Regions from separate parts of the Homo sapiens genome. Here region 2 is linked to region 1. A link means that fine-mapping ties the variant in region 1 to the expression of a gene that starts in the linked region. Tissue or cell type: whole blood. Region 1 holds a variant in brackets; the other region holds the start of a gene. All regions are shown on one strand. Distances are between the middles of the regions.

What was found. PIP is the estimated chance that this variant, and not a neighbour inherited with it, causes the effect.
Region 2: ASAP1 starts here. The variant in region 1 is fine-mapped to the expression of ASAP1 in whole blood (TOPMed, PIP above 0.99).

The regions. Positions count from the first base shown.
Region 1 is chr8:130,209,449-130,217,553 of GRCh38, reverse strand. It overlaps ASAP1 (ArfGAP with SH3 domain, ankyrin repeat and PH domain 1), which reads left to right. Exons shown (of 30, transcript NM_018482.4): 5 at 2,853-2,998. Among named protein-coding and RNA genes, the nearest start is that of ASAP1-IT1, 83 kb to the left of the region's middle. The variant A/TA (reference allele first, on the strand shown) is at 4,993.
Region 2 is chr8:130,440,286-130,448,390 of GRCh38, reverse strand. ASAP1 (ArfGAP with SH3 domain, ankyrin repeat and PH domain 1) reads left to right here and starts at 4,717. Exons shown (of 30, transcript NM_018482.4): 1 at 4,717-4,931. RefSeq lists an enhancer at 1-148 and silencers at 4,633-4,732, 4,773-4,862, 4,873-5,032, 5,083-5,162.

The sequences.
Region 1 (8,105 bases):
GTGTGTGTGTGTGTGTACATATATACACACATATATACACATATATACACATATAATATACATATATACGTGTGTATATATACGTGTATATATACATATATACACATATAGGATGTGGTAGAAAATACTGCAGTAGAGGTACAGAGAATTGTGGGCAAGGAAGGATTGTTTCCAACTAAAGGAAGACTTTATAAAGAAAAGTAATTTATTGTAAAGCCTTTAAAAATATGACCAAAAAAAACCAAAAAAAAAGATATGACTTTGATAAATATCTATTTATTCATTTATTCATTATGTAAATACTATGCATCTACTGTGGGCCTCCCTACAAATTCATGCTTCTCTGTGCGCCACAACAGAGGAGGGAGGTGGAGAGTTGAGTACAGGCATCTGAAATGCTTCCAAGAGAACGTGGTATGCATCACTTCCACTCACATGGCCTTGGATGGTGCATGCCATATTTCCTGCCTTACTTTGAGAGTATGGGGAAATGCAGTACTCCTTTCTGTAACCCTGCAAGGATTGGGAACTTGGATATCCATGGCAAGTGGTAATGTCTGCCACAAGAGTCACAAGATCTGATGCACAGTATAACAGTGTTGCATTGGATGCTGTGTTGGTACCAGACTGCTGGGAGGCAAAAGTAGCAACAGAGAGACCATTTCAGAAGCAGAGTGTATTTGCCATTGCCACAGATAGGGGACTGTGAGAAAAAGAATGGGAAGAAGATCAAGAGTTTGGTTTTAGACATGTTAAGATTCAACATAGTTAGTGGAGATACTGAATAGGTAGTTGAATATATGTCTGTATTACAGAGGGTGGGTTTTTCTGGGCTGGGGATATCAATTTAGGAGTTATCAGCTGATAGAAAGTATTTAAAGCCGTAAGACTGAGATCCCAAGAGAGTAAGCAAAAATAGAGAAGAAAGGTCCAAGACTGAGGGGCCTCAACATGATGAGGTCAGAGAGATGAAGAACCAGCAAAGACAATGGAGAGGACCAGTCGTGAGGCAAGAGGACACTCAAGAAAGTGTGATATCCTGGAAGCCAGACAAAGAACATGTTTCAAGGCAGTGGGGGTTATTGTTTATGCAGTATTTGCTCTACTGAGAAACTTTTATATACTTTATGTCAGCTCATCAATACCACAATTCTGTAAGTTAGATATTGGACTCATTTTATGGATTGGAAAACAAAAGCTCAGGGAGGAGAAATTTTCACAAATTAATGTTTCTCATGTGCACCTAATTCATCTGATCCAATTCTGAACATTTTGCAGCAAGAGCTGGACTGTGAAAAGCATTTTACAAATACTATTCCTCAGACCTGGAACTTAGACAAAATTAAAGGAAATGAAGATTAGTTGCAGGGAAAGAAACCTGTTAGGACACATGAATTTTTCTTTTGCAATCCAAGATTGTTTTTCCAAGGAGAATTTTCTACTTTTTCAGGTAATCATAGTTTCTTTCTTCCTTTTCCCTTTCCTTTCCTTTTTCCTTTTCTTTCTTTTCCTTTCCTTTTTCCTTTCCTTTCCTTTTTCCTTTCCTTTCCTTTCCTTTCCTTTCCTTTCCTTTCCTTTTTCTTTTTCTTTTTCTTTCCCCTTTCCCCTTTCCTTTCTTTCTTTTTTTTTGGAGATAGGGTCTCATTCTATCACCCAGGCTGGGTGCAGTGGCACAAGCACAGCTCACTGTAGCCTCGACTTCCCAGTCTCCAGCAGTCCTCCTGCCTCAGCCTCCCAAGTAGCTGAGACCACAGGTGCATGCCACAATACCCAGCTAATTGTTTTTTGTTGTTGTTGTTGTTGTTGTTTTGAGACAGAGTCTCACTCTGTTGCTCAGGCTGGAGTGCAGTGACGCGGTCTCGGCTCACTGCAAGCTCCGCCTCCCAGGTTCACACCATTCTCCTGCCTCCGCCTCCCGAGTAGCTGGGATTACAGGCACCCGCTACTACACCTGGCTAACTTTTTTGTATTTTTAGTAGAGATGGGGTTTCACCGTGTTAGTCAGGATGGTCTCGATCTCCTGACCTCGTGATCGGCCCGCCTTGGCCTCCCAAAGTGCTGGGATTATAGGCGTGAGCCACCGCTCCCGGCCCTACACCCAGCTAATTGTTAATTTTTTGTAGAGACGGGGTCTCGCCATGTTGCCCAGGCTGGTCTTGAACTCCTGGGCTCAAGCGACCTGCCTACGTTAGCCTCCCAAAGTTCTAGGATTACAGGCGTGAGCCACCATACCCAGTCAATCATAGTTTCTTAATTGCTTGAAAATGTGATGTAATTTGACCCCTCAGCCTATGAGGAATTAGTGGATTAACTGGACTATAAATGAGCTAAATTCTATGAAAGAAAAAGGGAAAGGCGAGGTGCGGTGGCTCACACCTGTAATCCCAGCACTTTTGGAGGCCGAGGTGGGCGGATCACAAGGTCAGGAGTTTGAGACCAGCCTCACCAACTTGGTGAAACCCTGTCTCTACTAAAAATACAAAAAATTAGCCGGGCATGGTGGCATGCATCTTTAATCCCAGCTACTCAAGAGGCTGAGGCAGGAGAATCACTTGATCCTGGGAGGCGGAGGGTGCAGTGAGCCGAGATTGTGCCATTGCACTCCAGCCTGGGAGACAGAGTGAGACTCTGTCTCAAAAAAAAAGAAAAAAAGATAAAAGGGAAAATCTTCCTTAGTAGAGTGAGTTAGAATATTTAGTGTACTCCTAACCTAACCTTTGGGACATGTGCAATAAATAATTGATACAGTTTATGCTTCCATTTTGAGAATTCGTAGTGATCGGTGTTCAAAGTAACTTTTCATTGTGGCAAATAATAGTTCAGACTCCTTTCTTCTTCTTTTTTGTTTTTAGATCATGTACAAAATGAAGAAAACTATGCACAAGTTCTTGATAAGTTTGGGAGTAATTTTTTAAGTCGAGACAACCCCGACCTTGGCACCGCGTTTGTCAAGTTTTCTACTCTTACAAAGGAACTGTCCACACTGCTGAAAAATCTGGTAAGACATTTCATATGTGAGTAAAAAGAATTACAGCCTTTCCAAAATATTACGTCATATAGAGAACATTTCAATAATCCTTCCCCCTCAATCCTTGGTCCTAGGGGTGAGAAAGAAAAAACAAAAAGCTTTTTAGTCCTAGGTAACTTCCACACCTCAACTAAAAAGCTTTTTAGTCGCCTAGGATTTGCTTAAAGAAAATCCCATTGTGAAATTCCTGGAATTTGTACCTTTGGCCCAGCTGATAGAGTAGATTTATCGAAGCTGAGAGAGAAACTGCTTAACCTGAATTCTCTTCCACATCTCTACCATTGATTTTTTTTTAAAGATAACCTTTAGCAACTTTTGCTTTTTAATTGGCTAAAAGAATGATGATTTCTGTGTCGAACATACATTGGAAATACACATTGAAAGTATTATATCTCACTTGTGTGAAGGTGATCATGCATTTTGGTTTCTGATATATAAATAATGAACCTCCCTCAACTCCCCACATCCTTTTAACCCCCAACCAAGAAAAGGGTTTTGAGATTTAAGGAATCTCTGGTTTCCAAAGTAAATGACAGGAAGAATCCCTAACGATCTGAGACACTAGAGGTGCTGGCCCCGGGAGGCAGACCCAGGGATGGGGGTGGTGGAGGAAACTGTTTGCCAGGCAGTCGTGTGTGGGCATCCCCATGTTGTGCTGCAACCCCCTCCCCAGCCCTCATACCATGTGCACACTTAGAAAGGTTCTGGGTAACACCACCTGGACGGATCATTTGGATTTTGTTGGTTTTGGGGGATGAAATTATTTCTCTAAGAGCCACCCAGTGAAATAATTTAATCCTCCTAAGTCCCCAGAGAAAGGAGTACAATGAGGTTGAAAGGTGCCAAAGGAAAACTATTTATATCATGCTTTTCCAAGTTAGCCCTGCCCTGGAGAAGAGGAGCTGTTCCCTCTTCTCTCCCAGTCTCTTGGTATTGTGCTTTTACCTCCTTTAAGGATCCAGAACTCATTCTCAAGATGTCCTTAACCTAGGTCAGTTATTCATGTATCACATAGGCTTCTGTGGCCTTAGGTGATAATTTGTCATAATCCATTAGATACAAAAGGTTAGTTTACAGATGAAGATAACCTATTTGAAAAATGAAAACTACCTTTCTACACTCCATTAACCTATTTGGCCAGTTACAATATTCTTTTTCTCTGTCACAATAAATAAACGTGTGTATGTGTCTGTCTTCCTGACAGTTTTTCTAATTGGCGATGTATGCCATTGAATTAATCTTACACAGCGAATAAGCAAATCTGAAAGAAAATAAATATCGAACATAGAATTATTTATTATTTTCAAAAACTTCGGAAAGGATAATTTTGAACTTTGGCTCTAATGTTTCTGTGCTTTTGGATTTAACAAATCCATGTTTTTGTAAATCTTAGATTATATAAACCTCATTTATTCAGAAGAGCACCCTCGGTTTTCCTTCACTCTGAGCATTGCCTGCACTTTCACTGGAGGCCTTGCTCAAAGTGTGGTGTGGTAGAAAGAGAGGAAGCAAAACAAGACTGACAGTTCACTTTGGTAATAGCTGGTAAAGGACTTGCTTGGGCAGGAAGATCTGTTTTCTCTGAGATGGGTGTTTTCGCATTGATGTCTTGCTTTAGTTTCCAAGGACCAAATGTATTGGCTTAAGTCAAGAGTCATCACCTCCAAGGTTCCTGGACCAATCTCATCTCTACGGTTTGCTACGCTGCAGGTTCCTTTCAACTGTGTGTATATGTGCCATACACACAGCTCAGTGGCCATTCAGGCCAACATTCATCATCTGCGTTTGCTCACCTAATACATTTGTTTGTCTCCATACAAAACCATCTGAGATTTATTGAATGTTTTTGATGAACCTGGCAGTTTGGTGGGTGTGTTATGTAGATTATTTCATTGAAGACATTACAACAATCCTGTGGTTACTGTACCTTTAATCCAGATGAGGAAACTGAGGCAAATTGAGAT[A/TA]TATAACTTGTTCATTTACCCTATTAGTATGTGTTACAGACTTGAACCCAAACATTCTGTCTCTGAACCCGTTGCCTTTGCTCTTCTACAATATCCTGCCTCTGTCACCTCATGCTCTGGTTGTGCTGTTTCCCTCAGCAGAAGTACTGATCAAGCTACTCCCATATACATACCTCAAGCTACAGCCCTTTTTCCACACCCACTCCCCTTTAAGGAGTAGAAGTCTAAGAAAAATCTAAAGGAAATTGCTGGAAAACCTAATTCATTTAGTAAAGGAAAACAAATTTTGCCTTTGAAAGTGGTGGTGGCATTCCTGGTGAGGGAGCCAAGTAGAAGAATCAGTTTCTACTGTAGTTTGGTTACTAAGAAAACATTATTCTGATTGAATAAAAGGCAGTCCCAGGAGTTTACACAACTTGACAACAGCCAGCAACTTTCTGCTTCCCTTTTTATGCTTTTCCTGGAAAGGGAAGAGCAAACTAGACAGATTGATAGGGCCACACCTTGGATTAGAGGGCTCCCAGAAAGCCAACTCACCCCGAGGGGGTCAGGGTTCTGGATCTTCGTGCAGCACCTGCAGCCCCCAGCTGAGCAGCACTCAACACCCTCCTGGGGCTCAGGAGTACCCCCGTGGGAACCCATACTTCTCAGAAGATTCCCAAAAATCCTGTTCTCTTAGGCTAGTGAAGGCCAGAAACGTTAAGCAAACTGATACAGTAGAAATTAAAGAGAAGGTGCTTTGGTACTTTATAGACTTTGTAAATTGTATTCCCAGTTCAACCAGCAAGTACCAAAAGTCTATTATGTTCGAAGGTCTATGCTAAATACTAAAAAATGTCATTTTCTAATTAAGTATTGCCTTTGAAGAGTATTTTAATAGTTTATACTAAATCATTACTTATTTTTATGGAGAAAAAGGAAAGGATAGATTTGCGGGCCAGGTCTCATACTAGCTTTCAGCTTTTGACTAACTCTGGATGAGAAAAACATTTGTTATTTGTTCGATGTAAGAAATCACTATTGCAGGTGTATTGTGTTTATCAGTTTCTGGGGCAGTGGTCTTAAAAAATATCAGTGCACTAAATGATGGTAACTATCTCAACCATCATTGAGATGCTTCGGGTTTTTTTCCTTTTTCTGAACTGTCTGTGATTATAGAAAGTACGATCAAGTGAGATGTTATGTGAAAACTCCCAAGGGCTACCTACAAAGATGTTGGCATTAACAGTGCATAGGGCTGAGGCTGTTTTTAATTAACCATACGTCTGAGGACTGCGAAAAGGATTGCACTTACAGCTGATTACTCTGTGAGCCCATACCGCAGTTGATGCACCAAGTCAGTTTTAAAGTAACTTGCTTTTCTTACTCCCCCCTCCTCCACATTATAGAAAATTGTTCCTATAAAAAGTTTTTCTACCTTGTAACATAGGATTCGAGAGGCTATGAAGCATAGGTGGTTGGAGGATCATGGGTTTTGGTCCCAATCACACCTGGAATCCTAGTTTCCGCCTCACCAGCTTTATAGCCTTTGGCAATTCACTTAACTTTTCTAATGCTAGTTTCCTTGTCTCTAAAAATAAATAAGAGTGACTGTTTCTTGGTAGTGGCAGGGTTTCATTGAGGTCAGAGAAGCAAGTCACTAAGCATAATACCTGACAAAAAATTTGTTTCACAAATACAAACCTTAATTGTTATTTACATCTTCTCATTTTATTTTTAAGGTAACTCAGTGTAAAGACAGCTATCAGTCATATCCCATTTTAGAGATAGATGCACCAAATCTTCAAAAAATATATACCTGCAAAATGGTGCAATTAGGGATTGAGCTCAAGCCCTGTGGCTACAGATTATGCCTTGTTTCAGTGATGCTGCCCCACGAATTACATTGCCTTGATGGATTATGTGGATGGTAAAGGCCCACCTGACACAATGACCAGGGCCTGTCCTGGTGATAATTAAACTAATGTGTGTGTTTAGCGTGCAAGGTACTTTCTTGGTTGTTTTTGTCCTTTGATTTCTCTCATTGGTGAGTTATAGCATATTGGAAAGAGTGAGAGTGTTAGATGGTAGTTCTCAAACTTTTTGGTTTTAGGACCTCAGTCTTAAAAATGACTAAGGACACTATGTGGTTTCTGTTTATGTGGACTACTTCTATTCATATTTACTGTCTTAGAAATTAAAACTGAGACGTTTTCCATGTGTATTATGTATTTTAAAATAAACCCACTTTAAAAATCTATTTTTATGGAAAAATAACTATTTTCTCAAACCAAAAAACATTAGAAGGGTGGCATTGTTTAACATTTTTGTAAATCCCTTTAAAGCCAACTTAATAGACGGTAGCTATATTTTCATGTCTACTTCTGTATTCATTTTGTTGCAATTTATTGTTTTAGTTGAGGTAGATGGGAAATAAGGCCTCATACAGATCTGTATTGGGAAAAGAGAAGAGTATTTTAAGAGCCATTTCAGGTAATCTTTGATACTACATAAAAACTTCATAAGTAGTCCTTCCTTAAATGTTATTAACGGTGTGAATCTGAAACCATGCAAATGAACATTATTTGGAAACTGTCAGCTCGTGGCAAATTCAAGTTTTCCAAAATTTTAGCTTCCACTGAAAGCTCTGTTTTTATCATTAGCAATAAATGCTATCAGTTGTTTACCTCGAGGTGATAAGCTCACTTCATTCATTTTCAAGAAAATGTTTGGCAAATACTGGAGTCCGAATAACCATAGTTTGCTAGTCTTTCTTTCAAAAAAAAAGGTGTTCCACTAAAAAAACAATGCCAGTTAGTTCAACTTGCAACTCAAAAAATTACATAAGTACTTTTCCTCAAAACAACCATCATATTTTGGTATGCCTAAAAAGGGCTTTATGCATACTTCCTATTTCATCAAACAGAACATTGAAAAGATGCATTTGAGGGTCAAGATGTGATAAAAATCCATTTTTACTTTTTCATTATGGGTATTCTTAAATGAAAATAGCCTTTCTTTTTTTTTTTTTTACTGTAAGAGCAAGACCATGAAGAATACAGTAACTTTAGTTTGTAGCAGTGCCTTGATTTATGCTTAAGACAACAGCTGTTTTACTCACTGTTGCTTTTACA
Region 2 (8,105 bases), 230 kb before region 1:
TCCTCCCACCTCAAGGGATCCTCCCACCTCAGCTTCCCAAGTTGCTGGAACTAGAAGCACATACTACTATGTCTGGCTAATTTTAAATTTTTTTGTAGAGATGGGGTCTTGCCATTTTGCCCAGGCTGGTCTCAAACTCCAGGGCTCAAATGATTCCCTTGCTTTGGGTCTCCCAAAGTGTTGGGATTACAGGCATGAGCCACCTTGCCTAGCCCAGAGCATGATTTTCATAAGGAATTAAACTCAGGGGTCTAAACTCAAGATACCCACCTAGCTCCTGGTCTGTGACTTCAGGATGTTCATGGTGGAACTTTAGAGTTCTGCACCTTGCCCTTCGGCCCTCTCCTTCAGCAGACAAGGTGGCCTCTTCCAGTCCAGGGTTCGTGCCCCCAACCCACTCTAGTTCCCATCTCCTCTCATCCTCAGTACCTGTTCTATCAATGAACCATCCCTTCCTCTCAACCTCACCTACCAACCCAGATGCTTGCCTGCCCACACATTTTTAAAGAAGCCTCTACCCTTACCTCCCACTTGCTAGACAGCTACATTTCTGAAAAGAGTTGTCCACGCTTACTGTCTCCCACTCCGTCCTCAACCCACCGCAATCTGGCTTCCAATCCCTCCACTCCATCGAGACAGCTCTGGTAAAAGTTATCAGCCTTCTCATTGTCAAATGAAATGAACACTTGCTTTCTGGTCCTTTCTTGATGAAATTTCCTGTGACATTTGTGAATGTTGCTCATTCCTTCCTTGTAAAAGCAATTTCTTCCCATGCCCCCTGGTTCTCCTCTGGTTCTCTTCTTCTCATTATTCACTCTCCCAACAGCTTGAACTGGCAAGAAAGACAGTGCAGGGTGGTGAAGAGCCTGGACTCCAATGCTCCTTGATATGGTTTGGCTGTGTCCCCACCCAAATTTCATCTTGAATTCCCATATGCATTCCCCTGCACAAACTCTCTCTCTCTTTGCCTGCTGCCATCCACGTAAGACATGACTTGCTCCTCCTTGTCTTCTGCTGTGATTGTAAGGCTTCCCCAGCTGCGTGGAACTGTAAGTCCAATTAAATGTCTTTCTTTTGTAAATTTCCCAGTCTCACGTATGTCTTTATCAGAAGCCTGAAAATGGACTAATACACTCCTCTACTCACTAGTGGTTGGCCTTGGGCAAGTTACTCAACACTCCTGTGCCTCAGTTTCCTCAACTGCAAGATGGTGTAAGGCTTTTTAGTCTCATTGTTTTCCATGTCTGAACATGCATCATGTTCTCAGATCATGCTGAACCTGGTAGAGTCACCCACATATATTATGTGTTCATGCTCAGTCTTTACTCAGGCACTTGGGAGTGCCCAGCCAGTATCTGTGAATATATGCATGAACACTACTCTGGATTGGGTTTCCCCAGAAGTATACCTTGAGACAAGGAGATGGGTGCAGTTACTTTATTTGGGATCCCAAGAACAAATAAGGAAGTGAGAAAGTAAGGCAAGGAAGGGAGAAGAGGCAAAATCAAAGAGTGACTTAATGAGGGAGTGACTGCTGGGGGCAACTGGACTCATTCCTACTGGGGAATTCCTCTGAGGAACTGCCTTGAGAGCATTTGAGAATTGATCTTCCTTAGGGAAGGGGAGGCTGACACATTCATCCACTGTTTGGTTAAGGACTGACCCAGGGCTGTTGGAAACTTCCAGGCTAGGCAAGATCCCACAGCCCTTGAGAAAGCCTCCTGGTAGAGAGGAGAAAGGGGGCCTGCTTTGGATAGACAGTTTCTCTGTACAGAGGGCAGCTCATTGCAGCTGCCGGTGAGCTCAGAGGTGGGCCCAGGGGACATGGAGCCGAGCATCACTAACACTCACGCTTGTTACTCTGGTTGGCAGGCCTGTGCCCCCTTATCTAGCTACATAGGTCCCATCTCCTCCTTGAAAGTTCGTTCAAGAGCACCCACTTCTTGGAAGCATTTTCCAACTTATCTCCACCCTACTCCACCTTCAATGTTCTGAATAGCCCTGGATACCCTGGACATGACTCTATAAGAGTACTTATCTCTCTGCTTACTAGATAGAGCTTTCCTGTCTTTCTTAGCAAGAATAGTTCTTTTTCATCATTGCACATGTAGGGCCCAGATTTTTTTAGCACATTACAGGCACTTAACCGATGCCTTAAAATGAATTCAAGTTCACCTTGCTCAGGGACCCACTCAGAGCAAGTGGTCAACAAATGTGGACTCCTTTCCTCCATCTGATTTAGGAGAACAGTCATCTAGTGAGTATACAATATGACAAATATATTCTTTAAACAGAAATGCCAAGGAAGCACAAAGGAGGGAGTAATTAACTGGGACTATACCAATGAGACTATAGTTACCTCATTTGACAGTCTTAATTACTTAGGTTTTTTTTTTTTTTTTTTTTTTTTTTTTTTTTGAGACGGAGTCTCACTCTGTCACCCTGTCTGGGATGCAATGGCATGATCTCAGCTCACTGCAACCTCTGCCTCCCGGGTTCAAGCGATTCTCCTGCCTCAGCCTCTGGAGAAGCTGGGATTACAGGTGCCCACCACCACGCCCGGCAATTTTTTGTATTTTTAGTAGACACGGGGTTTCACCATGTTGGCCAGACTGGTCTCAAACTCCTGACCTTAGGTGATCTACCTGCTCGGCCTCCCAAAGTGCTGGGATTACAGGCGTGAGCCACCGCGCCTGGCCTACTTATAGTTTTAGTTTTCCAGAAGCACTAATAGAGCCATCTGGTGCTCCTTCCACCGCACTGGGCGTTCCCTTTTGAATCTCTCCACCAAAGAGGAAGCCACAGGGAGCTGCGGGACCGAGTGAACCACCCTACCTCAGGCAGAGGTCCCATCTGCAACTCTAGTTTGTTTGCTTCTTTCATTTATTCAACACGTGTTTATCGATGGTCTCATATGGGCCAGCACTGTTCTAAGGAAACAGGCAAAGGTACTGCTGTAATGCAGTTTACCCATGCAGTGGGGAGAGTGGGGGGCAGATAAAAAATAAGCAACCAATCATGTAGGCTACATTAAACAGTGACAAGGGCTATGAAGCAATCAAACAGGATGCGCTATGTTTGGGAGAGGTGGAGGTGGGGTGTAGGTGCCAGAGACAAGCAGATCACATGGTTGGGGAAAACCTATCTGCGGAGCTGACTTCTGGGCTGTGAGCTGCGTGCCAAGAACAGCCATACAAGGGTTCTTCCAGGCAGAGGGGACGGCAGCTACAGTGGGCCTGGAGCAGGACCCTGGGACTCCTGGTGCCCAGCTCAGAGCTGTCCTACTGCTTCTGGCCACGGAGAGAGAATTGCAGAAAAGGAACAATGCTGGGTCTAAAACTGGTATCTGTTCCTTACTTGGAGTAAACGAGCTGGTACCCAACTTTCAGTTCCCAGCAGGTTCATTTCAGGCTTCTGTTTTCGCTCATGAGCATGTTGTTCCCTCTTCAAAGTCTGATTGGGTTTCAAAGGAATCTGAAACACTTACAGCAAAACCACCAAGCTGCATCCTCCAGGTAGACACCCCCGAAATGTGGCATTTCCGTGGGAAACCACAATGAATCACTCATTGGCTGCCCGACCTCTCTGCCCAGTCAGAGATTGATTTTGGTTTTCCCAAACTTTGTAAATCCGCTCCAGACTGTTTAACAACCCCCACTCCCCACTACACCCAGACTCTCAGATTAGGAGCAAAATCCCAAATTTTGTGAGGTTTTCTGTTTCGGATTTCACCAGAAGGGGGTCTGCCACAGCCACTAACCATTTCCTCTGCAGAGAGCCGTTTCTGAAATGCTGCAAAGAAAAACAATCACCCAATGATTAGGAGGGAAATTAAGTTCTAAAGAAAGACTACTGTCTCTGACTTTGAAAGTAGACATAGATATGCACAATATACATCCCACAAATTAAAATCCTCCTTTCTCTGATGTCTTTTAATGGTAATAATAAGGACAAGCATGGCTATCATTTATTTGGGCGTTTCCAATGTGCCAGTCCCTGTCTAAACATTCAGCTTCCAGATCAAACCTATGAGGGTGGAATTAACATCCATTTCATAAATGGAAACTGAGGCTCAGGAAAGTTGAGCGAGTTACTCAAGGTAACATGAGTAGAAAAAAGGCCATATTCCAACCGGACACAGAGCCTGCAGCCCACACAATTACTCTCCATACTGTTCCTATACTATCCTGACTGGGAAGGTCCTGTTCCCTTGGCACTGGGCAAAAATAAAATTATAAGAGCAGAGAGGAAGTGGTGAAAGGGGGCAGCCTGGTGAAATCATTCCTTTACTGAAAATAGGGGTAACGGCCAGGACAGTGCAGGTCCATCCTCTGCAGATGGAAGACAGGCACGTCCTTTGCCGCTGTCCCGGCCTTAGAAAGGCACCTTCCGCGTCCAGGGTTTTCTGTGGATAAATCCCACCCCTTCCACCTCAGGCGGGGAGGAGGCCGGCCGGCCGGGGCATGGGGCGGAAGGCGAAGGACGCCCGACCCCGGCCGAGGTCTGGGGCCCCTCCCACGCCCCCCTCGTGGCTGCCGGCGGGCCAAGGGTTAAGCGAGGCGGGAGCCCCCGGCGCGGAGCGGCTCGGGGCCGGGAATGCTTAGTCAGGATTCCGATTTCCTGTCGAAGTGTTTGGATTTCCTGAAACCCGCGCCCTCCGCCGCCGAGCGGGATCGTGCGAGCCGCTCGCGTCGCCGCGGCCTCCTCCCCCTCGGCACATGGTCGCCCGCCCCTTCCTGCGCCGCGCTCGGCTCCCGCGCCTCGCCTGGCCTGGCCGCTGCCGCGGGCGAGCACTGTGCGCTGGGCAGCCCCGGGCCCGCGCCTCCCGCCCAGCCGGCGCTTCCCGGTCGCAGTTCGCTTTCCCACCCGAGAGCCGCGAGCGCCCGGCCGAACCCGCGATGGAATAATGCCCAGCGGCCCGCCAGGTCCCGGTGAGTTGCGGGGCGCTCGGGCGCGCTCGGCGGGGCCGGGCGGAGTCGCCCACAGTCGCGGGCGCCCCCTGCCCAGTCTCTCGCGCGAAGAAGGGCGCCGGGACGGGGCGCGGGGCGGGCTCCCGGCTCCTCTCGCAGCGGGGTGTCCTTCTCCGCGGGGAGGGCGCCGGCCCTGGGCTGGGGCGTGTGCGGGACGCGCGGCCAGGCTCTGCGGGGCCGGGCGAGGCCGCCCGGTGGGGGGGGGAGGTCTCCTCGCCTCCAGCTCGGGAGAGGGGGCCCCTGCAGTGGGGCCGGGGACGGGGCCCGCCCTGGGGGGTTTCGCGTCCCCCTCCGGGGGAGGGCCCGGGACGACGTGCTTGGCGGCCCGGACCCCGCCGATGGGGCGCCCTCCCGGCATTGTCTCTGGTGCAGCCGAGGAAAGTTCCCCGCGGCCCCCGGCCCCTACCCGGACCCGGCGCTGCTTGGCAGGCCCCAGGCCACTTGCCTAAAGCAAAAGAAGAGAAACGAAAGGGAAGGGGGTGGGGGGAGTCCTACTTGGAGCTTGGGGTTGGCTCCTGGGCGGACCGTGAAGTGGCTTGTGTTTTCTGCTTGTACCATTTTGGGACCTGCTGCGTTTTCTGAGAGCGACATGAAGTTTCAAAGAAAAAAGAAACTTGCCGGTGTCCGGTTTTCTGCGGTTTGATACATCCCAAGAGGTTCATCTTGGGCACTTCTAAAGCAGTTTCCTTTAATAATGTGGTTTTCCAGTAGCTCAGGGAGAAGGATGGTCAACTGCAGACCATCATCGTTAACTTGACCTCAACTTTACCTGTACTCGTCAGGAAAGCAAAAGAACTTTCTCTCGCATTTTCCCCTGTCTACTCTGTTAGGTTATCTTGGCGTGATTGATTCTGGGATGACATCAGGACCTGGATTGCTGAGTAATGTTTTGGGATTGTAAAAGCTTATCAGTTTTTAGGCCAGGGTTATCTGTATTGCAACCTTCATCCCAAAGCCTTTCTGTTTTGCAATTGTAGCGCGGCCAGATAGCTTTAAGAAAATGCGGGTCTTCTGGAAACACCCAGTGAACAGTTTGGAAAGAAAAAGATCTTTGAGAACAACTGATTCACCCCCTTCAGAGAAGGCCCAGAAAGGTGACCTGACTTGCCCAAGATCACATGGCCAGGAGTAGTTTCCACTTCTTCAGGCTCAGTCCCATGCCCCTTCTGTGTTAGATTTTGATCTGTTAGCCATGAAACAGATTTGGAAACGTCTTCTTTGCGTCACAGCCTTCACCACTTTAGTGCCTTCTCTTCTGTCCTGTTAATGCTGCTATTTTTGAGATATGCACTTATTTCAAACTGCATATTTTGAGATAGGGAGTTAAAAAAAACAAAAATCACCTAACGCCACTAAGTGGATTTGGAGATTCAGCTACCAAATGGATTTGAAGTATAAAATGAGTGGCTTATTATACGGGGAATTACTTTCCCTATCCCATTCTTTTGTGCAAAATAGAAACTCCCAGGTCCAAAAAAGGGCAGTATCTTAGCACATAATGTACCCTCTGATGTTCTCTAGACTTGATTTTCAGCCCTCCTGTTTCTTGTGAGCTAAGCAGCCCATCTATTTTTCTCATGAGAGCTCTGAATGGCTGGTTTTTCATTTTTAGTATGTGATAATGTTGGAGAGAAAGGACTTTTCGCAAGCTTGCCATTTGGTGAGGGAAATTGAAATTCTCTACACCTCCCCAGTCCTCACCAGCCACAGCGAGCCAGATTTTCAAAATCAGTGCAAGCCTGGCAGGCCCAAAGATGAATGTGTGCATTCAGATTGAGCCCTCCCTTGTGAAGACTCACGTCCCAGCTGGCATCTCCATGCTGCACCTAGGTGACTGAAGTCTAGAGGAAAGAAGGGAACCCCAGTTAGCTAGGACAGTGTTGTTCCTGCCATTTCCCCACCTAGGTCTCAGCCGTATTTGGATCCTGCTGCTCGGTTCTCATTTTTCCCTGCCGTTTTTTCACCCAACCACTGCTGTATCTGGCATGGGCTCCGGAAGGTCTTTTCTAGGAGACTGCATGAGTGATCCCCACGTGAGCAATAGTAACAGTCACCCCATTTATTAAGCACTTGCTGTATGCCCTAGACATGTTACCTCCTAAGAAGTCCTAAGGAGGAGCGGAAACTTCTTGGGGAGCCTTGCCCAGAAAGGACAGCACATCTCAGATTTATCTGGAATCGAGTTTTTCTTTCATGCATCCAGTGAAACATTTGCTAAGTGGCTTCCCTGTGGGAGGTGCCAGTCCTGCAAAGATGAATAGGACCCTGTTCTCAAGGCCTTCTATTTCCAGCCTCATCTTTCAATGTCAGCCTCACACTTTCTCTTTTAATTCATCAATTGAACAACCATGCATTGAGCACCTGCGCCATGCTAAGCCCTGTGTGGAGTCCTGATGATACAGTGGTGGACGAAATAGACCTGGCACTGCCCTTCTGGAGCTTGCATTCCTCTGGAGGAGATGAGCAACAAGGAAGAAGCAGAAGAAACAACCTCTAACAGATGAGTGATTCCTTGTTATCAAGGAAACAAACCTGGGACCAAAGTAGGGGCTGGTGGCACAAGTTGGTCCTAGTTTTGGAAGGGAAAGCCTTTCTGAGATTGGAAAATGGAGAAGGAACTGGCCAGGCAGAGAGATTGCAGGGGAGGGCCTTCCAGGCAGAGGGATGGGAATGTGCAAAGTTGACTATGCACAAAAGAGCTTGGTGTATTCCAAGGAGTGAGGGAAGGCAGGGCTAGAGTGTAAGGGAGAGATGGGGGGAATGGCGCAAGGTGAGGTTTGAGAGGGAAGCAGGGACGAGATCACACAGCCGATTCTAAGCCATGCTGGGGAGAGTCCCTCCACCCAGTACAAAGGGAAGCTTTGGTGAGTTTAAGCTCAGCAGTGATATCTGATTGACTCTTTTTTTTTTTTTTTTGACAGAGTCTAGGTCTGTTGCCCAGTCTGGAGTGCAGTGGCATGATCTCAGCTCACTGCAACCTCTGCCTCCTGGGTTCAGGTGATTCTCCTGCCTCAGCCTCCTGAGTAGCTGGGATGATAGGCATGCACCACCACACCTGGCTAATTTTTATATTTTTAGTAGAGACGGGGTTTCGCCGTGTTGATCAGGATGGTCTCAAACTCCTGACCTCAGGTG